Linked DNA regions of Homo sapiens. The protein of the gene in region 3 purifies or fractionates together with the protein of the main gene of each other region. This does not show direct contact. Each region holds a gene or a part of one and is shown on either strand. Other genes may lie near its edges. The genes, in order: PPP2R5E, CCT7, PPP2CA and PPFIA1.

What was found.
Region 1: the proteins of PPP2CA (region 3) and PPP2R5E purify together in Homo sapiens (affinity purification with mass spectrometry; 8 studies listed by BioGRID and IntAct, with this or other methods). This does not show direct contact.
Region 2: the proteins of PPP2CA (region 3) and CCT7 purify together in Homo sapiens (affinity purification with mass spectrometry; 5 studies listed by BioGRID and IntAct, with this or other methods). This does not show direct contact.
Region 4: the proteins of PPP2CA (region 3) and PPFIA1 purify together in Homo sapiens (affinity purification with mass spectrometry; 6 studies listed by BioGRID and IntAct, with this or other methods). This does not show direct contact.

The regions. Positions count from the first base shown.
Region 1 is NC_000014.9:63,372,378-63,379,898, forward strand, and holds part of PPP2R5E (serine/threonine-protein phosphatase 2A 56 kDa regulatory subunit epsilon isoform), read right to left. Parts: intron 3,732-7,521; coding exon 3,632-3,731; 3' UTR 1-3,631. UniProt on the Homo sapiens protein: The B regulatory subunit might modulate substrate selectivity and catalytic activity, and might also direct the localization of the catalytic enzyme to a particular subcellular compartment.
Region 2 is NC_000002.12:73,228,921-73,237,386, reverse strand, and holds the start of CCT7 (T-complex protein 1 subunit eta), read right to left. Parts: upstream 3,080-8,466; 5' UTR 3,009-3,079; coding exon 3,003-3,008; intron 1,838-3,002; exon of another isoform or gene 1,742-1,837; intron 1-1,741. Other genes in the region: PRADC1 (protease-associated domain-containing protein 1 precursor), read left to right, coding at 4,227-4,293, 7,174-7,274, 7,817-7,926, 8,425-8,466. UniProt on the Homo sapiens protein: Component of the chaperonin-containing T-complex (TRiC), a molecular chaperone complex that assists the folding of actin, tubulin and other proteins upon ATP hydrolysis.
Region 3 is NC_000005.10:134,202,074-134,209,594, forward strand, and holds part of PPP2CA (serine/threonine-protein phosphatase 2A catalytic subunit alpha isoform), read right to left. Parts: intron 4,059-7,521; coding exon 3,849-4,058; intron 1-3,848. UniProt on the Homo sapiens protein: Catalytic subunit of protein phosphatase 2A (PP2A), a serine/threonine phosphatase involved in the regulation of a wide variety of enzymes, signal transduction pathways, and cellular events.
Region 4 is NC_000011.10:70,266,448-70,273,993, reverse strand, and holds the start of PPFIA1 (liprin-alpha-1), read right to left. Parts: upstream 3,305-7,546; 5' UTR 3,080-3,304; intron 2,816-3,079; exon of another isoform or gene 2,675-2,815; intron 1,822-2,674; coding exon 1,558-1,821; intron 1-1,557. UniProt on the Homo sapiens protein: May regulate the disassembly of focal adhesions. May localize receptor-like tyrosine phosphatases type 2A at specific sites on the plasma membrane, possibly regulating their interaction with the extracellular environment and their association with substrates.

The DNA.
Region 1 (7,521 bases), on a different chromosome or scaffold from region 3:
GAGAAGCAGCTGAGCCAGAATACAAAAATAAAAATATTGATGTGCAAATAAAACATCAGTGATCATGTCTGGTGCCACCTTTTTGTTACAGGTGACTGTCACTTTATGATAACATTGGTAATAGCATCAAAAGAGAATCTCTTCATTTCCTGGGCCAGGTCAGTGCATCCAATTAAAAGGAAAAAAGGAAAACAAGGAAAAAAAACCACCCCAAACCCCAAAAAACTCTAAACACTTAAAAATGCCAATAACATCCATACATCCCTTTCCCATCCCACCCTCATCCCCACAAAAAAATAAAAAAGCTTTTAAAGCTCTAAATATACTTTTTTTGTTTCTTTCCATAGTGTGATTGAGCCTAGGGCTATACATTTAAGTATAGCAGGTGCAATTACAAGCAAGTCCTGGCTCTGCACCCTGGACTATCCCACGCATAGGAGGTACAAAATAAATTAAACCCTTTCATTTAGGCAAACAAGCCCAAGATGAAGGAGCATAACCCTGCTTGTGAGTATCCAGTGGCATCGAGGGTATTATTTATTTCTTTTTTTTTCTTTTCTTTTATAAAAAACAGTCAAATGTTAGGGAGAGCAAAATATAATAAAATTTAAAAGGACAAAAACTCAACACTGAAGGAAAACAACTGGGGATACTTCACAATGAGAAACAGGAATGCATGCTTGATTCAAAGTATGAGATGGGTGAATTCACTCACATAGTTGTTCTAGGCCCACAGCCTAAGGCCTCAGCGTCATTCTAAACCACAGGGTTGTGTGTATTTTTCTCTTCCAAAGACACTCTTAATCCTATCCCTGAAACCAATATGGTAAGGATAAGGTTGGAGTGATCATCACTCACTAACTACAATATTTGCTATTTAAAAAATATATTTATATATAGTTCTGGAAATTATGAAGCAAACAAAATATAACACAAAGATGCATTTGTCACAATTAACTCAAGTTGCAGCAACAGCAGAATTGTGGGAAGGGACAGAGAGAGAGGGCTGCTGCAAATGCAGCAAGTACGTCCTGAAATATGTCACATAGTGCAACAGTCAGATTACCTCAGTTACTCTGCGTCACCGCACACAACATGACTAATGTCACATTGTCACTTTCCATTAAAAAAGAAAAAGACGGTGTTTCTTCTCAGAAGTTGCCCTACGAATTTTAGACATATAGCTTTAATTGATTCTATAAATATGTCTAAAATGTGGCTTTATTCTTCTCAGTTTGGAATGATCAACATACAAAATTGACATCAAGGAGGAGAGCTGTAAGTGTTCACCTTTACTCTTGAAGACAGGGTAAGGTACAAAAAAGGATCCTGGCCTTTCTCATTTCAAATGACTGCATTTCATTCCAATGAGCAGAGATTCTTCATAAACCTGTGATTTTAATGTCTTCTACCTAAAAAGATGAATTAATGGCAAACAAAAGTTTACACTATATAAACTAAATATAATGCAGAGTTGAAACTAAAGGGCTAAAATGACAAGGGCTAAAAAGGAGAAGATTTGTTACAAATTTATTTTTTATCACATTGTTCCAGCATTTTTAAAGTCAGTTGTTTCGTCTTTGGCAGCCTCTGCCAACTTTACAGTGAATCCCCATCAATGTTCTTTAAAAAAAAAAAAAAAAAAACTATTAATTCCATTAAACCATGTTGCGTCTGGTGTTGCATATGACTTTTTTTTTTTACTGCTTTTTTTTTTCTTTTTGGAATTAACAATGCCAGTTTTGTTTGTTTTTTTACAAAGTTACCGAGATGACAATATCCATAATTAGCTGACTCTTACGTACACACTGTGACCTGATCATCCTGAAAAACTTTATGGGGGAGAAAGGTCAGCAGCTTCTCTTTCTTTTTCTTGAAAATAATAAAACTGCGTATTCTACTTTATATTTAAATGTAAGGAAGAAAATATACAAGCCCATATTTATATTGTATTTCTATTAAGAGCAACAATAGTTCATATGTTCATGTTTGCTACTATCACAATTCAACATATGAACACAGATCAGCTCTATACCATGAATACTGCTGGAAGTGATGGTTTAGGATTACCAACTCACTGCTGCCATGACCAAAACAAGCAAATGCATCCTGGAAATAAACCTCCAAACACATATCTTTCAGTACGTAATAATGCAACTGCATTAGGTAAGTACATACTGTACACAAATTTTATCAGCAGTTTACCTACCCAAGATGTAAGATTCTTCATTTAAATACAAAGCAGAGAGCCAATAAGATATATATATATATATATATATATATATATATATAAAATACAGCCCTAGATTTTGTTTTTTTTGTTTTTTTTTCTTAAACAATTTGGTCACGATGCACCTTTGATATAAAAGCATTTTTAAACTTTATTATTAATACTCAGGACATTAGGAATTTCCAGATTTTTTTCAGTAGCATTTGTAGAACCACTTTTGGTAACAAATACAGTAGTTAGGAATATGCATCCAATTCAGAATGCATAATAATGTTTATCCTGAATCCTTTCCGGCTAAAAACAGGGCTGGCGCTGTGATGAGATATAGAACGAGAATCTACAAAAAACACTGTAACATGTTTGTTTTTTCCCAGAGGCTACATCCTCTTTTGCTGGAATACTTTATAAATACATATTAAAAAGTAAGGCAACAACTCCAAACAGTCCAAGCTGTTTGCTCAACTCTTTTCCCAATTAGATTTGCAATCCCGGTGATCAATTTCATGGTTGTATTGTTTAGTGTTTGTCTTTCTTATTTCAAATGGTCCAAAAGGATGTTTTTCTCACATTTCTAAAACATCTCTGGTATGTGTGTTCAATGATATATGCAACTAATACTGGTCAGGTACTGAAGCCTGTGATGTCCCAGTGCCTGTTTTCAAAGGATTCAAGACATTGATTTGGATTCACCATAAACTGATGCATGAATCCGATATTCCCTTCCCTACTATGTTTATCACCTCTTCTCTCTTAACTCCTAATTTTAAAACTAAAGGAGTACCAGGACTACCTGGTTACTGGAAAGATGTTCACCCCAGTAAACAAAACTTTTATCAGGGACTTTTATAATTCATGACCCCATTCCACGTGGACATTCAACTCAGGAAGATGTGCAAAAGAAAAAGATGTTAAATTACAGTCAAGTTATCCAGAGGAGGATGTTACACAAACTTATAAGGAAATGACAGTCTTTTTTTCTTCCTTTACTATAAATACATTTAACAGCTTAGCAGAAAGACAAGCTAAATTTAAGATTGTTCACATTTGAAAATTGTATCATACTCTCTGCTAGTGATAAATAAGGAACTCCCGATAATGGAATTTTAACATAGCAATTTCATCAACAGATCTTTGAAGACCGATTTTTTTTTTTAAAAGAGGGTGAGAACAATGATTATGTTTGCAAAGTTCTGAGAAGTCCATCTACTGTCCAAACTTTGGATTGAAGTCCTTATTTTGTTTTTTCCTTTACTTAGAGACAGGTATATACAGTGCTGCTGTAATAATGAAACAAAGGTGAAATCTACTGTAAAGTTGCACAATACAGAAAACTGTTGCTCCATCTTCTACTACATAAACGTGTGACTCCACAGGTTAGTAATGTTGTTGTCATTGTTTTTGTTAAGTTGGAATTATTCCATCACGTCTAAGACCTCTCTTTAACTCCAGATCCTCCAATTTTTTCCACAATTCTTCACGCTCCTTTTCTTTCTTTTTCTCACTGAGGAAGAAACAGAATACAATGTAAACAGCTGAGGTTTAATGAGATTATGCAACAATGAATATTTTACAATTTCACCTTAACACTCCTTTATACTTAGCTTAATTGAGAAAATTAACTTTAAAATTACTAAGAAACAAAAATGGGAATGACTTATATGCATCAGTTATTGTAAAATCAAGGGCATATTAGTGATTTTCACTTGCAGCTTAGTAAGAATCTTAATTTTTCTTTATCTCCAAATAGTTTCTCAAAAAGGATGCTGGAGATGACACTGATACAGAGAATATAGTAGGTCAAGAAAATATATCTGCTCCTTTATTCCTATTTTTCCCACCTCATGCATATTTAAATTCTTCAGTAGTTTAGAAGAAACTGAAAACTTGTGATTTCACTTTTAATGATCTGAAAAGAACTTGGTTGATATTATTAAGTATTAAATTTTAATGCATCAAGCCTTCAAATTGGGTTCAATATCAATTTCACTGATTTTAAATTTAGTGATTTTCAGACTTTGAGATTTCACTATTTGGTAAAACTTCCCCCAAAAATTAGATGTCCAAATTAGAATCGACAAACTTTATATTTTGCCAAGGACATTTTAAAATTACATTTTTACAAAAAAAGGATTTTTAACATCAACCAAGTAGGAAGTACATGATGCAGGAATATAAGACTATATTGTAAGTTATATAAATTCACATTTACTAAAAATAATTCACTACACTGTCTCTGGTTTTTTTCCATGTTGCAGCGAACCAATAAAAAGCAGACCCAGGCTGGGCGCAGTGGCTCACGCCTGTAATCCTAGCACTTTGGGAGGCCGAGGCGGGTGGATCATCAGTGAGACCCCGTCTCTACTAAAAATACAAAAATTAGCCGGGCATGGTGGCGTATGCCTAGAGTCCCAGCTACTTGGGAGGCTGAGTCAGGAGAATCGCTTGAACCCGGGGGGCGGAGATTGTGGTGGACGGAGATTGCAGCGAGCCGAGATCACACCACTGCACTCCAGTCTGGGGGACAGAGCAAGACTCCGTCTCCAAAAAAAAATAAAAAAAAAAAAATGCTGATCCAGATTAACATTCATAAATCCAGGAATTCAGATAATTCCTGAAAATGGGGGCTCCACCATCTCAGGCATGGGGATGTAATCCATGCACTACCCCACTTAGCAAGGATTAAAACTTCAGCCACAGTACAATTTCTACGCAGGGAAATCCACATGGGTTGAGTGAAATTTGTATGTAATTCCAATGCCTCATTTTTTTTAAAACATTATAACCAATGTTTTTTAAAAGTTATATTAATATCTAGAGCAATAGAGATTAATCTTCATCCCCTCCAACTCCCAAAAAACTCAAGAAAAACCTAAGTAATTTTATATTCTTATTCCACTAGAGACTTGAGGAAATGTTGAATTATAATGCCATAATAGTCTGGTATTAACCAGAAATGTTTAAGACCATATGGGAGCACAAACCAGTGGAACTCTTTACAATAAATGTTTATGGCTTAGTAAAGCCATATGGTAATTAATATCATGATCTAATAGGTAATATTTTCATAACTTAGGCCTTGTTTACCATAATTAGTTTCAGCTATCTCAAATACAAATCTGCACAATATAAATTTCAGTAAGCAGACTAGTTTTCATAAAATTACCTATTTGTTAATTTTGACCCTGAAAAAATTGCACTTATAGGACAATAAGGGCAAGATTAGATAATCCTCCAATCTTCTTCTGGCTTTTTTGTTTTTGCTTTTGTTCTTTTCTTAGAGTCAGGGTCTCATTCTGTTGCTCAGGCTAAAGTGCAGTGGCACAATCATAGCTCACTGTAGCCTCAATCACCTGGGCTCAAGCAATCCTCTTGCCTCAGCCTCCTGAGTGGCTGGGACTACAGGTGTGCACCACCACTCCTGGTGCATTCCAGATTCTAAACATAATCAAGCTGTTTGACAAATTATCACTTTTTGTTTCTCAGTACAGTCTGGGAATAATTATGAGGTCTAAATCAATGTTAGCAAAAAACACAATTTGGGTATATATAAATCAATTGTATAGATCCTGCTGACTTTCGATGAATATGACCTTTTTATTTGGAGAGATAAGGGGATGGTAAGCAAGGGCTTGGAATTTTACTCAACTAAAAAACATTTCAATGTATTTCAGGTTCACATTGCCCTAATTTGCAGTTTTAACCCATTTATGCCAGAGGTTGTAAAACTTTCTTGTGAAAAATCAGACCTTGACGATGACCTTGAGCAGTGGGATAGAAATAACTCCCACAAGCTTAGCGTTCCAATAATGGAACACTAGGCATAAATTGGTTAATTAAGTGTTGACATCATTAAAACATTCATCATCTTGTTACTAAAGTGTTTCATGTTTTTGATCAAATATGGCACTCAATGCAATTTATCCTGTTGGGCTTTTCCTCCAACTGAGCATTATGCTCAGTTATCACACGGCTTTCATACTGACAACTCTATCTTTAAAAATCCTAAATATTGCTGACACAGTTATTGTCACCCCCAATCTTTCCCACTTTTCTCTCTCCCTGTAGGTGGAAATTTTAACGCTTAACCACACTGTCATGCAGGGGATATTGTCAAATTCTCTTCTAATTTCAATTTTACATAGCACTAATGTTGGCATATGTATCTAACAGTGTTAAGTACTTATTCCACCCACCATTTTCAGATTTGTAATACTTCAAAATTTGATCTGAACTGAAACCATTAACTTCTTGCCATCCTGAAGTAAAATTGTCCATTCAGTTATTCTCTGACAGTACCAACTAAATTTCTTCATTCCCTTGTCCTATTCCCACACCTATGGAGAAACCAATGTTTCCATCTGTCAGTACACCCTTCTATTGCTCATTTGACAAATTATTATTCTTGCTTTTAAAAACCCATTTTCTTTTTTTTTTTTTTCGAGACGGAGTCTCGCTCTGTCGCCCAGGCTGGAGTGCAGTGGTGTAATCTCGGCTCACTGCAAGCTCTGCCTCCTGGGTTCACGCCATTCTCCTGCCTCACCCTCCCGAGTAGCTGGGACTACAGGCACCCGCCACCACGCCCTGCTAATTTTTTGTAGTTTTAGTAGAGACGGGGTTTCACCATGTTAGCCAGGATGGTCTCGATCTCCTAACCTCGTGATCCGCCCGCCTCGGCCTCCCAAAGAGCTGGGATTCCTCTTGTTGCCCAGGCTGGAGTACAATGATGCAATCTCTGCTCATGGCAACCTCCCCTTCCCGGGTTCAAGTGATTCTCCTGCCTCAGCCTCCTGAGTAGCTGGGATTACAGGCATGTGCCTCCACGCCCGGCTAATTTTGTATTTTTTAGTAGAGATGGAGTTTCTCCATGTTGGTCAGGCTGGTCGCAAATTCCCAACCTCAGGTGATCCGCCTGCCTTGGCCTCCCAAAGTGCTGCGATTACAGGCGTGAGCCACTACGCCTGGCCCCCATTTTCTCATTAAGAAAGTACACTCATTATAAATAACTGTAATATGCCAGAATATCATAATCAACCTCAACCAGGAATAGATAAAATAATAGTTTTATCTATTCCTGGTCCCCTTAGTTAATTCTCATCTTTTTCAAGGGTTTAGTCTATTTAGTTTAGATAATAACCAGAAAATAGTTTTATTATTGAAGTTCACTAAATACAAACCAAATAATTTGAGTGGAAATAAGTTGTTCTTCAATATTCTCTCTCTTTTTTTTTTTTTTTTTTTTTTTTTTGAGACAGAGTCTCACTCCAATGTCCAAGCTGGAGTACAGTGGCATG
Region 2 (8,466 bases), on a different chromosome or scaffold from region 3:
CAACAGGTTCTTTCACCTCAACAGGTTAACTTACCCAATGCTTGTGTATACTTTTTCTCACCTCAACCTGCAAAGTGTACCCCCATCTAAAATAGTCACTCTGCCATCTTCTACCAAAACCACTTTCTCACCACCAGGCCACCAATTCCTCAGAGCTCCAATTCTTCCAAGAAGTTTTCTCTACAGTAATAAACAAGGGCATCTGAATAGGGGAATCCCATAACTTTCTCTTCACTTGCCCTTGCTCGCAACTTTTTATCACCATCCAGCTTAAGTACAAGCTTTCCAAAGACAAGGACCAAAATAACCTTAATTTGAAGAGTGCCAAGATTTGGCCACACATGAAGCAATATTCAGCAGCTTTTGGGGCTGAAAATCCAACTGCTACTTGTAAGTGCTTGACAGCACTGGCTTCTTGACTTTTGGGGAGAAAAGCACTGGCACTACAGTAACACTACATTTACTGAGAGTTCTTAAGCACAATGCAAGAAGAGCTTGGAAGCAGCTAACCACAGATTCCCCAGGTTCCCTATGCTTTGCAGGCCCTGAAGAAACAGCAGGCTGGGTAGAGAGCATCTATGGGGTGGAAAAGGTGGCAGAGCTGGATTGAGTCAAGCCAAGACAAGCAGGATAGGTCCTCTTCTAACAGTTCCCCAGCAGCAGGCACTGTATGCAAAGTCCAGTTTCCATCCCTTAGTTACTTTCAACCTCGCTCCTTTTTTTTATTCCTCTAATAAATAAGAAACAAGGTCGGGTGCGGTGGCTCACGCCTGTAATCCCAGCACTTTGGGAGTCCAAGGTGGGTGAATCACAAGGTCAGGTGTTCGAGACCAGCCTGGTCAACACGGTGAAACCCCGTCTCTACTAAAAATACAAAAATTAGCCAGGCGTGGTGGCGTATGCCTGTAATCCCAGCTACTTGGGAGGCTGAGGCAGGAGAATTGCTTGAACCTGGGAATGGAGGTTGCAGTGAGCCAAGATGGTGCCACTGCACTCCAGCCTGGGCAACAGAGCAAGACTCCATCTCGGGAAAAAAAAAAAAGAAAAAGAAACAAGAGCAGACTCCAGTAATTGGCCACAGGTATAATGGAAGGTTTTGGAATTTCAGCTTACTGATCTTCCTCTTCATCCTACTTTAAAACTTTCACTAAGCATCATTAAGCTTAATGGCTTACAAAACAAGTGTGTCTATGCCAAGGCACACAGCGCTCAACGCCACAAAGGCAAGGACATACATTTTATGCAAGCTGTACCAACATCACAGGACTGAGGTTTCAGGGGACCTTTTCACCTCTCTTTCGATTACAGAAGTATTCTAGAATATCAGGGGCCAATTTGAAGACAGGAAGACTCTTGGAGATAGAAGTTTCACATTCCAAAAATGGGGAGGAGATATCAAGAGCCAATACAGCAGGGAAACGTCAATCTGACAGAGGAGGGGTCAGTTCAGGGAAAATCCAAGTGTGATGATCTAGAGCCCACTGGTGAAGTTTTATCACGGCAGAGAATGGCGGTTCTGATCCCTAGCTGTGTGAATGTGAACCAAAGCTCTTACGGAAGCCCTGGCAGCGGGATGGACTGATTTCAGAGATGAAAGGAAGCAAACAACCACCTCGCCGAGTAAGAGCTAACATTGCTGAGTGCTTACTATCTGCTAGGCACACTGACAAACTGAGAACCAGAAATTAAATAACATGCTCAAAGTCACACAGCTAGTAAGTGGCAGAGCTAAGTTACAAACCTAGGCATTCAGTGTAGCTCCAGAGGCCTTACTCTCAACTGCTGTACTATGCTGCCTCTGCACAGAAGATGAAGACGACTTCAAGAATGAGCAATGCTAGAGACATAAAGGGGAGAGGAAGTACTGTTAAATGCTAATTTCCTTCTACCTTGGGTACAAGCGGGATTCATAGGGCATTTGGTAGAACACCTAAAAGGTGTCTGCGTCCCTAACAGGACAGAGAAAAGCTGCAGGAAGCAGGAAAAGAGCAGAAGATAGAGTCGGACAGGCCAAAATGAATAAGTGAACTGCCAAGTGCACAGAAAGCAGTATCTCAGTCAGGGTCAAACACCACCTCGGAAGCTGGCCCTACTCAATAACAACCCAGGAGATACCATCGAGGCTTGGGACCCACGGAAAGTATCTAAAGCTCCGAGAGACAGAGAAAAGAAGTGTGGGAAGTAGGGCTACAAGGAGCACTTTAGGTGGCTCCAGGACTCACAGCAACTCCCTCGCCCCAAATTTCAAGAAAACGAGACCCAGAGTTAGGTAGCCAACTAGAAAAGCCTTTCTTATGTCACCAGAGTCCGAGCCTGGGTCTTCCCACCTCCGATACAGTGTCTCCATCTACCTTTCCCGTTCTCCTGGCTGAGAGGCTGCAACCCCCAGCAACCACCAGGGCCTGGTACATTCAGTAGGCACTAAAGACGCGTTTATTTAATGACTGAGCGAATGAGTGAATGAATTAAAAGTACTAGGGAAGGCGTCTGCTTCTCTGCACGCTGCGGTGAGGGTCAGCGAGTGAACATAGTGAGTCCCTAGGCGGGCACAATATGAGGTCCCCAATGTGCCTGTGCCGGTTCCAAGAAGCACACGTCTTTACAGCCCGCAAATCTCAGAGCAGCCCCAGCTTCCAAGTCTAGCTGCCGACCGCGTAACCACGGCCGACCTGCACTCGTTTCACGCAAGTCCCGATCATGCGGGGCTAAAAAAGAGGTCCCCGACGTGGGTTCGCGGGCCCGAAGCACCCTGGGACTTGTAGTCCCCAACCGGCCAGCCCAGAGACTCCTCTAAAGCCCCACGCAGCCCTCGCCAACGGCTCCAGCGCCGTGCTCGGGCCGAGCCAGGCCGCGGCTGGCTGGGGTCGCCCCTAAGCTGGGGATCTGGGCGAGGACAGAGGCGGCAAGCAAAAGAGGGTCCTACAGAGCAAGCCCAGGCCGAGCGGCGCCGGCCACCGGCCAGATGGCAGCTGATGGCGACGGATGCGCGAGACGCCACTCACCATCATTTTGGAAGCTTATTCAGCGGCCCGCCACTCTCCCCTCTTCTCCGAGACCGGGCCGCCCAGCAACCCACAATGCCTCGCGCAATAGAAATACCCAGAAGCTTGGGCCGGGAGAGGAAGAGAACGGACCACTTCCGCTACTCTATGGTTCGTTACCACCGACTCGGTGCGGCTAGAAGGACCTGAGGCTGGGCTTCGGGGACTCTCTAGTGAGGGGCGTTCATTAAAGAGGGGTCGCCGCATTTCGGTCGTGCTTCTTAGAGCACGGAGGGTCTTTGCTCGGCCCGCATCACCTACTAACTTAATTCCACCCTCCTCCATCCCCGGACGCCAGACCAAGGAATGCAATAAAGGCAAAAGTGTGGGACGCAAAGTGTGGGATAGGCTGGTGCCAAAGCACTTTACGTGAGCGATCTCATTTAATCCTCACAACCCTATTGCGTTGGTCCTATTAAGGCCATTTTACTGATGACAGAAAGGAGGCTGAGAGGTCAAGGTGTCCAGTGTCACAGTTACATAGTCAGTGTCAACGGGACGAGCGTGGGAAGCTGCCCCCAATGCCCGTTTTCTGGCTTTGCACTGGCCAGAGGCTCCTCGTGGATGGCGTGCGCCAGGCCGCGGCCCCAGCGCCTATCCACGGTGAGCGCGCAAGCGTTGGTGGCACTGGGCGGAAGACCCCCTGGCGCAAGACGAGTGCCTTCCCGTGAAGGCGTGGGGAGGAGGGAAGCGCAGCTGGGAGGAGGGAAGCGCAGCTGGGAGAAGGCTAATCGTCGTCAATCGAGGCGGCCTTGGAGTGGACAGGACCGAGACCGCAAGGGTTAACGGCCTCGACTATCGACAGCTGAAGCAAGTCCGGCTACGGGCACACCTCCAGTGCTTGTCCTCCCTGGCCCGCCCACCGCCAGCGAGGACCCGGAGAGTATGCTGGGGCGGGGCTGAGGCGAAGGCCGGTTGTAGCTGTTAAGAGTTTAAGCCAATCAGCCCCCGGCTCCACTTCTCTCGACCAATAGGAAGTAGGCTAAGGCGCAGAGGCGGAAAGTGTGGCTACATGAGCAGGCGTCAGAGCCAATCAGCCTTGAGCCTCGTTCCCGTCGTCCAGCCCGCGGCGAGAGCGGGTATGTGGGCGGGAGGCCGGAGCAGCTGTCAGGCTGAAGTCCTGCGAGCGACGCGCGGCGGGGCGGCGAGAGGAAACGCGGCGCCGGGCCGGGCCCGGCCCTGGAGATGGTCCCCGGCGCCGCGGGCTGGTGTTGTCTCGTGCTCTGGCTCCCCGCGTGCGTCGCGGCCCACGGTGAGCGGCAACGGGTGGGACTGCGTTGCAGGGCGGGGCTGGCCGTCCAGCTTGCGCGCGTCTCGGGTTGGGGGCCAAGGGTCACCTTGGGGACCCTGCGAGTTCAGAGCAGGACAGGTCTGGGAGCGGGCGGCCGGAATAAGTGGGTGGTGGTCCAAGGACATAAAGTGGGCGCAGCCTGAGGCTGAAGCTCTGACTCCTCACCTTCCCACGACAAAGCAGATCTCCCCACTCGCCCCTCCCCGCCCACTAGCGCCGACCCAGGTGACTTAGGGTGCGACCAGAAGGGACAGCTAAGGAAGGATACTACAGGCTGGAGATATGTATGTGAGCATTCACATGTACACAGGAGCACACATTCCTACACGTGGGCACACACGCACAAACCGTTTACACCTACACAAGCACATAAATGTATACATCTATGCACATAAGTGAGCACATACGTATACCCACAACTTACACAAATAAGCACACACAAAGGCAAGCAAGGGTTGGGGAGGAGGGAGTGAGTTTGACGCTAGTCCAGGAAGGCTTTCTGGGGGTGTATTTGTATCCGAGAGGGAGTCCCCACTCCCAGGACTGTATAGCCCAGTGCCAAGCCATGGGAGCTCTAACTGATGGCTGTGATTTGGGCAGTAAACAAAGACAGCTAAAGCCTTAATGCCATCCTTGGTACACAGTAGTGACTTGGTAGTTTGTTGATAGACTAACAGACTTGTGACAGCAGTTTTCTTTTTTTCTTTTTTTTTTTTTTGAGACGGAGTCTTGCTCTGTCGCCCAGGTTGCAGTGCAGTGGCCCGATCTCGGCTCACTGCAAGCTCCGCCTCCCGGGTTCACGCCATTCTCCTGCCTCAGCCTCCCAAGTAGCTGGGACTACAGGCGCCCACCACCACGCCCGGCTAATTTTTTTGTATTTTTAGTAGAGACGGGGGTTTCACCGTGTTAGCCAGGATGGTCTCGATCTCCTGACCTCGTGATCTGCCCGCCTCGGCCTCCCAAAGTGCTGGGATTACAGGCGTGAGCCACCGCGCCCGCCCATGACAGCAGTTTTTATCTTTCAACATTCCGCAGTCTCTCTGGGTTAAGGAAACCAGGGACTCAAGTCCAGGTACAACATTAAACTTTGGTGCTGAGGAGAAGATCCCATGCCCCAGAAAAATCTAGTGGTCTGGAAATTCTCTTCATCGGTGCTGTGGAGCTAGATATAGTTGTTCACCCATTCAGGAAAGTTTATAGGGCTATCCCTATATTGTAGCCACTGTGCAAGACACTGGTGACTCTTCACTGAATGAAGTTACAAAGTGGAAGAGGCAGATATTTAAAAATTATGAATCCAGGGCAGGTGCGGTGGCTCACGCCTGTAATCCCAGGACTTTGGTAAGCCAAGGTGGGAGGATCACAAGCCCTGGCAACAAGGCGAGACCCCATTCCTATTTAAAAAATGAAAAAAAAAAATCAGCCTGGTCAACATGGCGAAACCCTCTCTACTAAAAAATACAAAAAAAAATTAGCCAGGCATGGTGGCGCACGCCTGTAGTCCCAGCTATTTGGGAGGCTGAGGCATGAGAATCGCTTGAGCCTGGGAGGTGGAGGTTGCTGTGAGGCGAGATGGCGCCACTGCACTCCAGCCTGGGTGATAAAGTGAGACCCTGTCTCAAAAAAAAGAAAAAGAGGCCGGGCGCGGTGGCTCACGCCTGTAATCCCAGCACTTTGGAAGGCCCAGGCGGGTGGATCACGAGGTCAGGAGATAGAGACCATCCTGGCTAACACGGTGAAACCCCGTCTCTACTAAAAATACAAAAAATTCTCCGGGCGTGGTGGCGGGCGCCTGTAGTCCCAGCTACTCCGGAGGCTGAGGCAGGAGAATGGCGTGAACCCGGGAGGCGGAGCTTGCAGCGAGCCTAGATCGCAACACTGCACTCCAGCCTGGGTGACAGAGCGAGACTCCGTCTCAAAAAAAGAAAAAAAGAAAAGTTATGAAAGCTGTATAATTACAAATTATGTTGAAAGTCCCCATTTATTAAAAAGTACATTTGAATGGGTATGGGAGGGCAATCATGAGGCAGAAGCTTTCTCTGAGGAAGTGACATTTAAGGTGTGACCTGAAGGATGACTAGGAAAGAGTCAGGTAAAGGGGTGGAAGTAGGGTGGCGTGGGAGTAGGGGGCCTTCCAGGCTCAGGGAACAGCCTGCAGAAAGACCCAGAGAAGTGAAGACACTGAAAGGCCAGTGTAGCTTGAACACAGGATGGAGGAGATGAGGTTGGAAGAGTGGCCAGGGGCCACAGCAAACAGGGTCTTGTAGGCCACAGTTTAAAAAGAGTTTAAATTTTAAATGCAAAGGGCAGTTATTGAAACCCTAGGTATGGTGATGTGCTCATAATTGCTAAGATGTTTTCGATTTCTGGTTGTTGCTTGGGGAGCAAGAATGGAGGCAGGGAGGCCAGGTAAGAAGCTGAGCTGTCAGGACAAGAGATGATAGTGACTAGACTTAAGGGGATGGCAGTGGGACCAGAAAGTCAACTTTTAAATTTTAGTGAGAATTGCTTTGTACGCAGGCCACTACATCTCTACCCTGAAACTCCCAGGTCTTCAGAGCAAAAATACTAACCCTGGAGCTCTCAGTTTTCCTGGCTTACTGCGTAAGCAGCAGCAGCAGCTGATATAAGCCTCTGGGGTTAATGACTCTGCATCAACTCTATCCTCCCCAGGACAGAGGCCATCTAGCCCCCAACCCTGCCACTAGTGGACCCCGTTGGCTGAAGCCAGGACCCTGAGCCCAGACTATAGCCAGCCCAGCTGAAGACACAGGGTCTGGGATCTGAACCTGAACCAGCTTGTTCCTGGGAGGCTTCTTACCTGTACTCTTTATCCTTCAGGCTTCCGTATCCATGATTATTTGTACTTTCAAGTGCTGAGTCCTGGGGACATTCGATACATCTTCACAGCCACACCTGCCAAGGACTTTGGTGGTATCTTTGTAAGTTAAGGGAGGCCCCTGATCTCTGATCCTCAACCTCCCCCTTCCCCTCACTGAGCTGCAGTGACCCTCTCATCCCACCTGAGTGCTGGGACAGGGAAGGGAGCAGAATCAGCTCTGCCTTCCATGAGCTGCAGCACAGAAAGGAAGCTCTTCCAGCTACTCCCCTGAGTATAATATAAACCTAGGCACCATGGAGGGACAAGTTGTCTTTTTAGGGGACATGAAGTGAAAAGCCAAGAGCACCAGCTTCCTCTGCCAGCTCTACCTGTGAACTATGTGACTTAAGGCACATCACTTCCTCTCTCTGGATCTACAACCAAGTCCCCTGCCTATCTCATAGAAGGGTAGGGTGGTGTAGGACAACCAGATAGGCCTTTGCGAGAATTAAGTAAAAATGTTTAAGTGTCTGGCGATACAGAAACCACTCCATGTTTCCTTCACACTTTATAAGGTGCCAATAAGATGGGATTGTCAGCCCAGTCCTAAAGCAGGTGTGTCTCATTACACTCTCACCTGTCCAAATGTTAAATGTTTTTCAGCACACAAGGTATGAGCAGATTCACCTTGTCCCCGCTGAACCTCCAGAGGCCTGCGGGGAACTCAGCAACGGTTTCTTCATCCAGGACCAGATTGCTCTGGTGGAGAGGGGGTAAGGAGTGGGCAGGCAGGACACGAGGAGTGGGCAGGCATACGGCAGATTCTGAGATTATTGGTAGTAGTGCTTTGAAAGAGCTGTTTTTGAAAATTTCATCTTTTTAAGCGTCTTTAAGAAATGTCTAGCCTGGGCAACATGGAGAAACCCTGTCTGTACAAAAAATACAAAAATTAGCTGGGCATGGTGGTGCACACCTGTGGTCCCAGCTACTCGAGGCTGAGGTGAGAGGATTGCTTGACCGCATGTTAAGGCTGCAGTGAGCCGAGATCACGTCACTGCACTCCAGCCTGGGCAACAGAGCAAAACCCAGTCTCCAAAAAAAAAGAAAAAGGAAAAAGAAATGTATTTAAATTATCCATGCTTTTAGCTATTTACTTATGAGCCTTTATAACAGATTCTTCATAGTCTGCCTTCTATACTCCCAGGGTGATGGTCTGGGGAAGGGGGAGCTAGGACCTGTCTTTCCTTTGGTCTTATCACCACCTCTTCCAGGGGCTGCTCCTTCCTCTCCAAGACTCGGGTGGTCCAGGAGCA
Region 3 (7,521 bases):
AAAATTCAAGAAACTTTCTATAGAAAAAAATGCAGTTACAATTTTGTTGAAAAAACAGCACACATCCTCATATCATAGTGAACCAAAACCACAGCTCTACAGAATTTTTAAATGCCCATGGGGTGTTTGCCCACCTCATCTCAACTAAAATCAAACTCCCTCTACCACCAACTTTATACCAAACATAAATCAATGGGCTATTAAAACCCCATAAATTACTTTACGGTTCAGTAATTTTTCACAAATTTATAGTTATGCAACAATCACCACAATCCAGTTTTAGAACCTTTCCATTATCCCAAAAAGATCCCTCCTGCAGTCACTCTCCACTCCCACTCCAGCTCCTGGCAACCACTGATTTACTGTCTTGAGTTTGTCTTTTCTAGAAATGTCATATAAATGGAATACAAAATGTAGTCTTTTGGCTAAATATCACTTAGAATATTTTTGAGGCTCACCCATGTTCTGGCATAGATCAGTGGTTTGTTCCTTTTCATAGTTGCACAGTCCTTCACTGTATGGCTATACCATTTTTTGTTTCTCTATTCACAGTTAAGATGAACTGGCAATTATGTTACTGAGGTTTTTGGCTACTATGAATAATGTTGCTATAATCATATACATGGAAGTTTTTCTGTGGACATATGCTTTCATTTCTTTTAGGAAGATTCCTAAGAATATAATTGTTGGATCACCTGGTAACGTTTAACTTTTTGAGAAACAGTCAAACTGTTTTTCAAAGTAGCTAGACCATGTTATATTCCCACCAGCAATGCATGAAGAGTTTAATCTCCGGTATTAACCAACACTTGGTATTATCAACCTTACTGATTACAGCCATTCTAATAGATGTGAAGTAGTAACTCAGTTACTTTAATTTGCATTTCCCTGATTACAATTGATATCAAGCATCTTTTCATGTGCTCACTGACCACTCATGTATCATCTTCTTGGGTAAAATATCTATTCAAATATTTTGCCCATTTTACAATTATCTGTCTTGTTATTGAGCTGTAAAAGTTTTTTTTTTTTAAATATCTGAATACAAGTACTTTTTTTCTGGTGTCATCTTTTGAAAAAACATAATCTTAATTTTGATAAAGTCCGATTTTTCAATTTTTTATGGACTGTGCTTTTGTTATATCTAAGAATCTTTAACTAACCTGACAAAGATTTTCTGATTTATTCTAGAAGTTTTGTAGCTTTAGCTCTTACATTTAGTTCTATGATACATTCTGATCCATTTGCTTCAGCACCATTTACTGAAAGAAACATCCTTTCCCCCGGTATTCTTTTGCTAAGGCTGCCACAACAAAGCATCAGAGAATAGGTGGCTTAAACAACAGAAATTTACTTCCTCACTGTTCCAGAGGCAGAAGTCCAAGATCAAGGTGTCAGCACAGTTGGTTTCTTCTGATGGCCTCTCTCCTTGATTTATGGATGCTCATCTTCTCCATCTGTCTTATCTTCTCCCCATCTGTGTCCTAATCTCTAATAAGGATACCACTTACACTGGATTAGGGTCCAACCATGTGACCCCACTTTACCTTAATTACCTGTCCAAATACAGTCACATTCTGAGGTGCTGTGGGTTAGGACTTAGACAAATGAATTTTGGGGGCTACAATTCAGCCCATTAACCTCCATGAGTAAGTTTTTTTCCCCCCAGATAGGATCTCACTCTGTCGCCCAGGCTCAAATGCAGTGGAGTAGCTCACCGCAGCCTGAAATTCCTAGGCTCAAGCAATCCTCCCACCTCAGCCTCCAGAGTGGCTAGGACTACAGCACATGTCACCATGTCTGGCTAAAATTGTTTTCTGAAGAGATGGGGTCTCACTAGGTTGCCCAGGCTGCTTGCATACTCTTAAAGGTAGCACATTCATTCCTCTGAGCACTGGGATTCATCCTGGGTTTTTAGCACAGGTTAGCTCTTTTCATAGTATTTGGAGTCACCGCAGAAACCTTCCACCATCTAGTCCAACTCCTTCATTTTACAGATGCAGAAAATAACGATCTCCAAAAATATTTCGTAGGACTTTACACAATTCAGATATTAATCAAGAAAATTCAGCTCACGCTAAAACCACATCTCACTGCTTCTCTAATATTAGGAAAGTCTGTGACAGCCATTTATCATTTTGAATATTCTTTAATAATAAAAATCAGTCTGTTGCCTAGGGGGGAAAAAATCTCCCCAAGATTTTTGGGTAAAGGTAAAGTCAAACAATTTATTTAAAGGGAAAGGCGGAAGCCTGCCACCCTAACAGCTCTTTACCATCTTTTGCTTCATGTTCAGATCATCATCAGTACACTTTGCAAAGCTACAATTGGCATGTAATGCATGTAATTTTGGAACTTGCTTTTTTCGGTTATCATTTCTACCATTCTAGATTTTTGTTTTTTAAAGACACAGGGGTCTTGCTCTGTCACACGGCTGGAGTGCAGTGGTGCATCATGGCTCACTGTAGCCTTGACCTCCCAGGTTCAAGTGATCCTCCCACCTCAGCTTCCTGAGTAGCTGAGACTACAAGCATGCACCACTGCACCTGGCTATTTTTTTTAACTTTTTGTAGAGATGGGGTTTATGTTGACTACGCTGTTCTTAAACTCCTGGACTCAAGTGATCCTTCCCGCCTTCCCCAGCCTCCCAAAGTGTTGAGATAACAGGCGTGAACCACTGCACCCAGCCTAGTCTAGATTATTACTGTCATGGTTAATGGCTGGAAACTATTCAACTGAGCTAAACCATATGTACATACATAATGTATGTAATGTACATAATATTCTCTGTTAAATATTTACAGCAAATGTTTTCTTGAATTTCTCAGAAAAATTCTTTTTTTTCTTGAACTTCTTCCTCGATATTTTTTTTTTTTTTTGAGACAGGGTCTCATTGTTCCCCAAGTTAGAGTGTAGGGTGGCAAGATCAAGTCTCATTGCAGCCACGACCTCCTGGGCTCAGGCAACTCTGCCCACCTCAGCCTGAGTAGCTGGGACTACAGGCCTGTGCCACCACACTCGGTTAATTATTATTATTTTTTTGTAGACAAGGTCTCACTATGTTGCCCAGGCTGGTCACAAACTCTTGGACTCAAGCAATATGCTCACTTTGTCCTGTCCTCCCAAAGTGCTGGGATTATAGCCACGAGCCACCGTGACCAGCTGATTTAAAACATTTTGACATTTGGTATGTTTATATATTTATAATACTTCAAAAGTATCTAAAAACACAAATCTAATTATATTACCTCTCCATACCCCAATTTACTGAACTAAAATATCTATTTGACCAGCCCTCTAACATTTTTCTTTTCCTTTTTTTTTTTTTGAGACAGTCTCGCTCTGTTGTCCAGGCTGGCGTGTAGTGGCGCAATCTCAGCTCACTGCAACCTCCGCCTCCCAGGTTCAAGCAATTCTCCTGCCTCAGGCTCCAGAGTAGCTGGGATTACAGGCACCCGCCACCACCCCCGGCTAGTTTTTTGTACTTTTAGTAGAGATGGGGCTTCACCATGTTCTCCAGGCTGGTCTCGAACTCCTGACCTCAGGTGATCTGCCTACCTCAGCGTCCCAAAGTGCTGGGATTACAGGCATAAGCCATCACGCCCAGCCTATTTTTTCAAACAATCTGACTGAGGCATTCATTCTCCTCCTTTTGTTTTGATTCTGTACCATCCCCTTACTCAGAACGCAGACGCCTATGATTTTTAAGTCCAAAACCTGAACATATGCATTCCTAAATGTGGAATTTTGTTTTAACATTCAGATAGAGAAAATAACTGGGGGAAAAAAAACTTTCAAGAGGACTGTCTTACCCATTTCAACATGCCCCAACATAAAATTGAAATTACCTTAAGAGCTACAAGCAGTGTAACTGTTTCAACTGAATAATATCCTCTGTCAACATAATCTCCCATAAACAAGTAATTTGTATCTGGTGATTTGCCACCAATTCTAAACAGTTCCATGAGATCATGAAATTGCCCATGCACATCTCCACAGACAGTAACTGGACATCGAACCTCTTGCACGTTGGATTCTTTTGTCAGGATTTCTTTAGCCTACAGATGGGAGACAAAAATAAGGCAATACATTTGGCATTAAACAATATTAACAAAGATTTGTTTACTTACACTTAATGTAGCTTAAGGGGCAGACTCAGTCTAAGATAAAATTGCAGGCATTTATGAACCCATTAAAATAAGTGAGATATGATTATAATCCATTAGCTATCTCACCCTGTTACCTAGGGAAAAAATATGCATTCCTATCATCAATACCAGGAGTTTTTTAAAAACCTATCAAATAGCCATCTAATTAAATACTAATTGTTAGCTGTCACATAAAACCAATGAAAATCGAACAGGACATTCAGGTATCTACTTCCTTACCTTCAGAGTTCTAACTACAATGCAGCACTCAAAGATTCTTTTTTTTTCTTTTTTTGAGACAGGGTCTCATTTTGTCACCCAGGCTGGAGTGCAGTAGTATGATCATAGCTCACTGTAGCCTGGATCTTCTTGGCTCAGGAATCTTCCCACCTCAGTAGTGGGGACCACAGGCACACGCCACCATGGCTGGCTAATTTTCACAAACTTTTTTGTAGAGACGGGGTCTCACGTGATCCTCCACCCTCATCCTCCCAAGGGCTGGGATTACATGCATAAGCCACCTCACCTCAGCCCTGTTTGACTTTTTAAAAACATGTTTTTGGCCAAGCACTGTGGCTCATACCTGTGAGAAAATCATTTGCTCAACCATCTGTACCAGCCCCATGCTAGCAACTGGACATATAGTGGTGAACAAGATGGCTCATTCCCACTACCGTAGAGGGGAGAAGGACCACAAACAAGTAACCAAGCCAAAAGTACACTGTGTTAAGTGTCACAAAGGAAAGGGAGAGGGAAACTGGGAGAGACCACTTTACATAAGATACCAAAACAAATTACCAGAGAATTGTTGCTAATGAGCCATGACAACCACAGATGACAAGGACTGGGTTCAAAGCATTGGTATGCAATCTTAGCTGCACATTAAAAATCCCAATGCCCAGCCAGGCGCGGTGGCTCGCACCTGTAATCCCAGCACTTTGGGAGGCCAAGGCGGGCCGATCACTTGAGGTCAGGAGTTTGAGGCCAGCCTGGCCATCATGGCGAAACCCCATCTCCACTAAAAATAAAAAAAACTAGCTAGGCATGGTGGTGCATGACTGTAGTACCAGCTACTTGGGAGGCTGAGGCAGGAGAATTGCTTAAACTTGGGAGGTGGAGGTTGCCGTGAGCCAAGATCGCATCACTGCACTCCAGCCTGGGTGACAGACCAAGACTCTGTCTCAAAACAAAAACAAAAACACCAATGCCCATTCCTTCCCCTAATAAAGTCAGAATTTTGGAGACTGGAATCAAGCCATCAATAATTTTTAAGCACCCCCACCCCTCCTTTTCCCAGTGTGCAACCAAGTTTAAGAACCACTGCACTTTGGGACGCTAAGGCGGGTGGATGGCTTGACCCCAGGAGTTCCAGACCAGCCTGGAGTACAGTGGCATGATCTCGGCTCACTATAACCTCCACCTCCCAGGTTCAAACGATCCTCCTGCCTCAGTCTCCATGAACAATTGCGACCACAGGTGTGCACCACTATGCCTATTTTGCACTTTTTGTAGAGGTGAGGTTTCACCATGTTGTCCAGGCTGGCCTCAAACTCCTGAGCTTAAATGATTTGCCCACCTCTGCCTCCCAAAGTGCTGAATTACAGGCGTTAGCCACTATACTGGCCTGAGATACCTATTAAGAAATATGTACAACCCATTATTATCAAATCCTACTTCATTCTGAAATTTTTCTCTGCAGGGTAATTCCAACTTCCCATTTACTATCACTAAAAAACACAAATTCACTAGGCTTATTCCATTACCAAGTCTGTCTGGCATTAATACCACATCTAGTGTTTTTTTAACACCTATCATATATTAATGAAAATAACTAAATGAAATAAGTCCTACACTGAGAAGAAACTTGCAAAAGTTATTCAGAAGTTTTAAAAGGGCATGACATAAGCAAACAGATGGTTATATACCATGTAAATCTTGCCATGATGTAATTTTCACATTTAAAGCTATCAGAAGTTAAATGTTAATATACTTCTGTGAATATCTGTTTATCTGCAAAGCTATTCTCTGTATTAATAATAAAAAGTTGACTTTCAGGACTGCCTGAAGTTCCTTACTACAACTGACTCAAATTTTCTATTCAAATCATGAAGGAAAATTAAGTCTAAATGCTATTTGTTGCTTTTATTTCAATTTAGGCAAATCACACCGATAAACAGTGTTATCTATTTTTTAAACTATACAAATTAGTAATACATTCTTGTAAAAAATTTCGGCACAGATAAAATGAAATGTTCCCTTTGAGCACCCTACACAATCCCACCCCCTTTGGGCAAAGTTACCAATAAAATTTTGATGTACAGATGCTCCTCAATTTGTAACACAGCTGCATCCAGATAATCCTATCGTAAATATAATCGAGTCAACAGTGTGTTTTCAGCTTACAATGTTTTCAAGTTATGATATATTTATCTGGATGTAGTCCCATCATAAACTGAGGGGTATATTGAATAGCTATCATTTTCACACCATCATTAAGTCGAAAAATTGGGGAGTGTCTGTATATCCTTTAAAACTTTGTTTACAAAGTTTACACACATACTGTATGTCTACAGAAACAATAGTTTTCCTTTGCATTTTTAAACTAGAAACAATATTGTTCAGCAGCCTGCTTTTCTAACAATATATAATAATACATAACATTTATTGAGACAGCTGGTTATTTTCTCATAGTGGAGGCAGAGTATTCCCCTGACCAATTACAATGGCAGAGGGGTGTGAAACTACAGCAATATATATCCTCGTATTTTCTCCTCTGTATACATATGCAGGCACATTTCCTGAGAGAAGATACTATGAAGTGAACTTAACTAGTGTATCTAGTAGTTTGGTTTTTAAATGTTGACATTATCAAATTGTCCTTTAAAATAAAAAGAACAGTTAACTCTTAAGTGAAATTTCTAACTTGTCAATCTAGAAAAGCCAACCAGAGCTCTTTCTTCCCTTCCTACCAAACTTCACAGACCAGAACAAATATAATTAAATACTGGCGATAACAGTGGTATACAGTAGAAGCAACCATCCCTCAGACCGGAGGGGGAAAAAAAAAAAATCATCCAATCAACTATTAAGTAGATCTTAACAAAAATGCAACCTTGGAAAGAACCAGTTTTAAGCATGATTTTGGTTGTTTTGTTGTTGTTGTTTTGGTCTCAACTTACCAGCTCTCAGATAGTTACAACAATAAAACAGACTACACCAGAACAGTAGAACAATAAAAGCTACAGATGTTCATATAAAAGATCATTTTGGGCTGGGTGCAGTGGCTCACGCCTGTAATCCCAAATCCCAATACTTTGCGAGGCTGAGGCGAGTGGATCACTTGAGGTCAGGAGCTCCAGACCAGCCTGGCCAA
Region 4 (7,546 bases), on a different chromosome or scaffold from region 3:
TCACCAGTGTGTGTGACAACCTCCACAGCCTGCGACTAACTGTACAAAACTCCTGTCACTTCCCTGACATGTCTTGTGTGCCCATTCTTTCCAAAACCTACCTTATTAAGTATATTAGTATTTGATATACACTTCAATACGTGTACCTTAAATTACAAATACAATAAAATCCTGGTAAAACATAAATTGGCTACTTCTTTTAAAATTGTAGTAATAAAATTCAACATAAATAAACTTGGTAATTTATAAGATTGAAATAAGAAAAATCTTAATGATTCTTTAATCCAACAAAAAAGGAACATAGAGCGCTAACGTCAAATTATTGTTGCTAAAAAGGAAACCCACGTTTGGCTTATCAATCTTTCAGGAGAACTGACTACAGCCAAGAAACACATTAAGGCTAGTACTTATTCATTTACTAATTTATCACTGCAGACCCATCATGCGAGTATAAATGTGTGCTTATGCGGGTCTACCTGAATGCACCCCAAAGGCACTTATGATGAGTAACGTGGCGCCTAGACAGCTCTGAAACACATAAATAACCCACTTCTCTCCCACTATGCCCCGTGCCACTCACCTTACACTCTTCTAGTTTTTACTTTCTCCCTTTACCTACCATTAAGTAAATCCTCATTCAACTCCATGAGCAAAGTCTTTCAAACACTGGTCCAAATGTAACATACTCAGAGAAACAATTTCAGTTGTTCTAAGCTTTAAAAATCTTTTTTTTTTTTGAGACAGGCTGGAGAGCAGTGGTGCAATCTTGGCTCACTGCAACCTCCACCTCCCGGGTTCAAGTGATTCTCATGCCTCAGCCTCTGAGTAGCTGGGACTACAGATGCGCGCTACCACGCTCTGCTAATTTTTGTATTTTTGGTAGAGACAGGGTTTTGCCATGTTGGCCAGGCTGGTCTCAAACTCCTGACCTCAGGTGATCCGCCTGCCTCAGCCTCCCAGAGTGCTGGGATTACAGGCATGAGCCACCACACCCGGCCTAAGCTTTAAAATTCTCATCTGCCAAGGAAAAAGTTCCTAAGGAATCAATCTCGAGTCTTCTATCCCCTAAAACAAATGTGACTTACAAAACCTAGATGTTCTGATAAAGGTGGGCTATCAAAATAATTTTTTTTTTCCGTGAAATCAATCCTATTTGTCTATTAAATTACATTAGGAAATTAGAAATACATGAGATAATCCATGGGAAGTACAAGTTTAGCCAGAAAAGGCTTAAGACAACAGAATGGAGGCACCAAATAGATTGGTTGCTTCAGAGCCCTTTTTCAAAAACTCTGGAGAACTTCCTGAACCTAGGCAGTTCCCAAAGATAGGAATGAAAATAATGAGGTATTTTCACATGACTTTAGAGTACAACGATTTGTTCTCCCTAAGAAGTTTAATCCCTAGGAACTTTGTATTTGACTTACAAACACCAGAAACTATCATTTCACAAATCGTTACGGAAAATACTCATCTGAAACATTAACAAAAGATGACACTAATAAAAAAACATTTAGTGGAGAAAAATCTATAGTTTCAGGTTAAAAGCACTCATACCTGTGGAAGTGCCGTGTTGAGCTGTCTCTGCAAGGAATCTCTTTCATGACCAACCTCGTGTAACTTCCCCTGGGTTAAGGCCAGCGTTTCTTGAGTCTCTCTCAGTGTATCAAGAAGGCGGTCCCTTTCTTCTAGCATGGAGACCATCAACTGTTCAAAATGTGAATCTGCATCTGGCTGTGAAGGGGAGCCGGAACCATGGCCTCCACCTCCTCCAGGGGGGCCTTCTGCTTCGCTGATGGTCGGCATCACCTCGCACATCATCTTGAAATGAAAGACCCAGGCTACAGTAATTAAGCTCAGAATACAGGTTCCCACAAATATGCAACTTTACAGGTATCTGTAGCTAAAAAGATGGGCAGTCTCATTATGCTCAGATCTGTTATGCTTTGTGTGTAAATAAGCTGGGAAAACATACACAGGGCAAATATTAAGTGCAAAAATACACAACATGAAGACATTAACACAGACAAAAATCCAGGGAAGGGGTCAAGATCCCAAAGGACTACCCTCACAAAAAAGGGCAAGCCCTGGGGTAGTCTGTTTGCAAAGCTGTACTTGTTTTTGCTGAAAACAAGTGTGCTTCTGTTACCTATTTTTTTTACTTCCCAGTGGGGTGGGGAGGGTGGGGGGGTAGGGGGGGAGAAAGTCAAAACACATGTCACCCAATCATTTTTCAGGAAAAGCACAGAAGGAGCATACAACCAGCAAAACTGACAAGTACAAAATCCATCAGGCATCTTGCAGGAATGTGTGCAGTCAGCTCCCGGGAAGAACTGACGGCTCCCTGAATTCTTGGGCTGGATTTGGTGAGCACTAAAAGGAACCGGATTCGTTAAACGCTGGTAGAAGTGTTTTCCAATGGCTGCAACGGTTGGTCAACCTAACTTACGTAAGTTTACAACCGAAAAAAAAAATCCACAATGGAAATATAGCAGGTCGATACAGCCGGGGGCGGCTAGGAAAGAGGGAAAAGTGAAAGGTGAGATTACGAGAGTCTATTAAGTGTCTGGGATATAAAGACAGCGCCAGGGAAAGGGGAAGTCGCTTCTGAGCCTTTCGGGCAGTACTGGGGGCGCGGTGGACCCCTGAGAGGGGGATGCCCCAGACGGCGCACCTGATGGGGATGGTGACCTCCAGCCTGCTCGAGCCGCACTCCTCCCCTCCTGTATCAGGTGCGGCGGAAGCCCCGAACCCCGGGGGGTGAGGACCGTTGACAACGGAGCCCGCTCGGGCCAGGGCTTTCAGCGGCCACAGGTCCCCGCCCCTCGCCCCAGCGCCCGGGTCACGGGGCGCGGGGCTCGGGGAGGGGCAGCGCGCAGTCCCCGGAGCCGTCCCTTGGGGCGCGGGTGTCCCGCCGGAGCTCTCCCAGCGCGACCCGGCGCCGCGGCCTCGCCCCCACCCGTCCCGGAGCGCACCCTTCCCCGCGGAGACATCTAATCGGCTGCGTGGCCGCCGCGGAGACCGGGACGCGCCGGTGACGCCTGGGCCCCGAGCCTGCCTCAGTGTCCCGCTCCCTTACCTTGCTCGCCGGCGGGAGCGGGCGAGGAGGCTCCGCGGCGGCTCGCGGGCGGCTGCTCGCTCCGGGAGAGCTTGGGAGCCGACGAAAGCAGCCCGCGGCCGGCGTCCGCCTGCCCGCCCCACGCCGCGGCCCCGGGGCCCGCCGCCCCAGTCACTAAGGCCGGCCCGCGGCCGGACACTGGCGGAGCGGAGGAGGAGCGGGCCCGGCTGCGCGGCGCCGGCGTCTACGTGCCCGACGTCGAGCGCGTCGGCGCGAGCGTCAGCACCGCCCCGGGGGCGGGGCCCGAGGAGCACCTTGGCCCGAGTACGCAAGCGCTGTCTCCTCAGGAGGGGGCGGGAGGCGGCCCCGGGGCACTGATTGGCTGAGCGAGACGGGAGCCACGCCCCCCAGGCCCCGCCCGGGTCGCGGGGGAGGGGGCGGTCTCCGGGATGAGCCACAGGTGGGCGCTCAGGTGCTCGCCGGGTCAGCGTCTTCCTCCGGGCGTCCCCAGTTTCCCCCCACGGCTGCAGGGACGCCGGAGGCCTTTGCTGAGTGTCTACCGCGCCTCGAGTTCTGAGCTGGACGCGTCCGGCACGTCAGGTCCCTCCCGAGCTGGAGGCTCTGGATTCGCACCTTGCAGAAGAGCGAACCGAGGCTTCAGTCACCACCGAGGACCCAGACCCCGCCCGCCGCGGCGCCCCTACGGTCTCCCTGGGCCTGATCTGGGTTCAGAAGGACGGAGTTCCCGCCAGGACCCACTTACGGAGCGCTGCCTGCCGCACCTGGGGACGTCCCGGCGCAGCGTCCAGAGTGCAGGCTTTGCCGCTGTGGCTTTCACTCTGCAGCGTGGGCCCGGGCGACTCGGGAAACCCGCCTGGGCTTCAGCGCCTCCGATGTAGGATGGGAAAATGATGCAGACCTACCTGCGAGGCTGCTTTAAGACATGAATCAGATGTGAAGAGCGACTAGTTGAGAGCCTGACGGGCAGCACTGCGCGAGTCTTGGTCATTTCATCTTTTCCGCAAGTTTTTTTTTTTTTCCAGACGTTGTTTCACTCTTGTCACCCAGGCTGGAGTGCAATGGCGCCATCTCGGCTCACTGCAACCTCTGCCTCCCGGGTTCAAGTGATTCTCCTGCCTCAACCTCCCGTGTAGCTGGGATTACAGGCGCACGCCACCAAGTCCAGATAATTTTGTATTTTTAGTAGAGACGGGATTTCTACATGTTGGTCGAGCTGGTCTCGAACTCCTGACCTCAGGTGGTCTGCCCGCCTCAGCCTCCCAAAGTGTTGGGATTACAGGCGTGAGCCACTGCGCCCGGCCTCAGCAAGAATTTTTAAACATCTACTATGGGCCAAGTCTTGTGCTAGATGTTGCAGATACGGAGATGAATAGAGACACCTCTAATTAATTAAAGCGGATGCCCTCCCCACTCCTCCCAGGATTTGACTCGGAGCACAAACTCTTCACAAACCAAAATGTCAGGACACCATCGCCAGTGTCCACTGGCCACTGCTGTTGGTGTGAGGCAGCCAGGAGCCCCTCAGAACTAGTAAGTCTGAGAAGAGGCTGCACGGGGCCTAGGAGAGGGAGAAATGAGCCCGTCCAAGGTGAATTCCTTGATTCTCCATTGTGAGTGCACCAAGAACAAGCACTCCCTCCGACTGACTCTCGCCTACCAGGATCTGGAACACCTTCCATTAATTTATTCGTTCATTCAATAAATATTTATTGACTGACTACACATAGATATGAATATGTACTTTTTGCCCCTAGTTTCTTGCTATTTTAAAAGTGTAAAAATGGCCAGGTGAGGCCGGGTGCGGTGGCTCAAGCCTGTAATCCCAGCACTTTGGGAGACCCAGGTGGGCAGATCACTTGAGGTCAGGAGTTCAAAACCAGCCTGGCCAACATGGTGAAACCCTATCCCTACTAAAAATACAAAAATTAGCCGGGTGTGGTGGCGGGCATCTGTAATCCCAGCTACTCAGGAGGCTGAGGTGGAAGAATAGCTTGAACCTGGGAGGTGGAGGTTGCAATGAGGAGATCATGCCACTGCGCTCCAGGCTGGGAGACAAAGCGAGGCTCTGTCTCAGAAAAAAAAAAAAAAAAAAAACATTGGCCAGGTGCAGTGGCTCACGTCTGTAATCCCAGCACGCTGGGGGGCCAACGTGGGAGGATTGCTTGAGCCTGGGCAATATATCGAGACCCATGTCTATACAAAAAATTAAAAATTAGTCCAGCAAGGTGGGCCACACCTGTAGTCCCAGGTACTTGGGGGATTGAGGTGGGAGGATCGCTTGAGCCTGAGAGGTCGAGGCTGCAGTGAGCTGTGATTGTGCCACTGCATTCCAGCCTGGGTGCCAAAGCGAGACTCTGTCTCAAAAATAATAAAATTGTAAAGTTGATCGCTTAGATGAGGTGTTCTGCAAGTACCCTGTACCTCTCCACACCCCAGCAATTCTGCACAACTCCCAAGTTCCCCTGAACCACTGTCTGAAACCAGCAAATTTCCAGCTCTCCTTAGGGGTACCTGCTTAATGCAGCCAGCTTATGTTTGCACCATGCTCATAAAGTGTCTGTTTTCTAAGAAATCGGCTCAAGGCCGGGCGCAGTGGCTCACGCCTGTAATCCCAGCACTCTGGGAGGCCGAGGTAGGCGGATCACGAGTTCAGGAGATCGAGACCATCCTGGCTAACACAGTGAAACCCTGTCTCTACTAAAAATACAAAAAATTAGCCGGGCGTGGTGGCAGGCGCCTGTAGTCCCAGCTACTCGGGAGGCTGAGGCAGGAGAATGGCGTGAACCCGGGAGACGGAGCTTGCAGCGAGCCGAGATCGCGCCACTGCACTCCAGCCTGGGCAACAAAGCGAGACTCCATCTCAAAAAAAAAAAAAAAAAGAAAAATCGGCTCAAGATCAAAATTTAGTTCGGCAGGGTAGAATGTTCATTCATTTCATGAATATTTGTGCAGCATGTATGAGCCAAGCATGGCTTAGGTCTTGGGAACGCAGAGCTAAGACATCACTTCTAGTATGAGTTCACAGTCTGGAGAAAGAGAAGAAAAACAGACTATTGCAATGTCTGTCCCGTAAACAGTGTGTGACTTGGTGCTGTGGAATCACAGGGAAGGGAGGAACCCGCTCTCCAGCTGGCATCATGGGGGCTTCATAGAGGAGGCAATATCTGAGCTGGGTCTTGAATGATGTGGGATTTTTCCAGCGGAGAAGGGAGACACCCAGTTGGTATAGCTCCAGGAAAATGAGAATTCTGAATTTCATTTTATTTCTTTCTTTTCTTTCTTTTTCCTTCCTTCCTTGCTTCCTTCCTTCCTTCCTTCCTTCCTTCCTCCCTTCCTTCCTTCCTTCCTTCCTTCCTTCCTCTCTCTCTCTCCCTCCCTCCCCTCCCCTTACCCTTCCTTTGTTCTTTTTCTCTCTCTTTTTTTTTTTTTTTTTGAGACAGGGTCTCATGTAGTCACCTAGGCTGGGATATAGTGGTTCGAACACAGTTTACTGCAGCCTCTACCTCCCAGGCCCATCAGTCATCTCACCTCAGCTCCCCAACAAGTAGCTGGGACTACCAGCGCAGACCACCATGCCTGGCTAACTTTTTTGTATTTTTGGTAGAAAAGAGGTTTCACCATGTTGCCCAGGATGGTCTCAAACTCCTGAGCCCAAGCAATCCTCCCACCTCACCCTCCCAAAGTGCTGGAATTACAGGCATGAGCCACCACTCATGGCCCTCATTCATTTTAATTCATTTATTATTTCATTCCCCCAGATCGCAAAATCAGTAAGGGGGAAATCGTAAACAACCTAAATGGCCAAGAAAACAAGATTGGTTAAATTATTGCACTTCCAAATGACAGAAAACTTGGTGACATTCACAGTCATTTTTTTTGAGACTGAATCTTGCCCCGTCGCCCAGGCTGGAGTGCAGTGGGGTGATCTCGGCTCACTGCAGCCTCCGCCTCCTGGGGTTCCAGAGATTCTCCTGCCTCAGCTTCCTGGGTAGCTGGGATTACAGGCACACCTGGCTAATTTTTGTATTTTTAGTAGAGACTGGGTTTCACCATGTTGGACAGGCTGGTTTCGAACTCCTGACCTCAGGTGATCCATCCACCTCAGCCTCCCAAAGTGCTAGGATTACAGGTGTGAGCCACCGCACCTGGCCCACAGTCATATTTTAGATAACTACATATATCATGATTGTGGTGGTAGTTACATTACTATATACGTTTGTCAAATAACTGTACATTAATATGTAGAGTATGCCTTAATTTTTATACATAAACAAAAACTTTTTTAAAAAAGCAAATTCAAACAAGTATACAGAGTGTGAACCCCAATTTGAAAAAGAAAACAGTCTGTGTTTAGATTAAGAATGTATTATGTAAAATTTACCTTGTAGATGAATAACTCTAGAATGTTAAGGTGATACATTTTTAATAAAATGAGTTTTATATGACATGAACTATTCTTGAAATGAG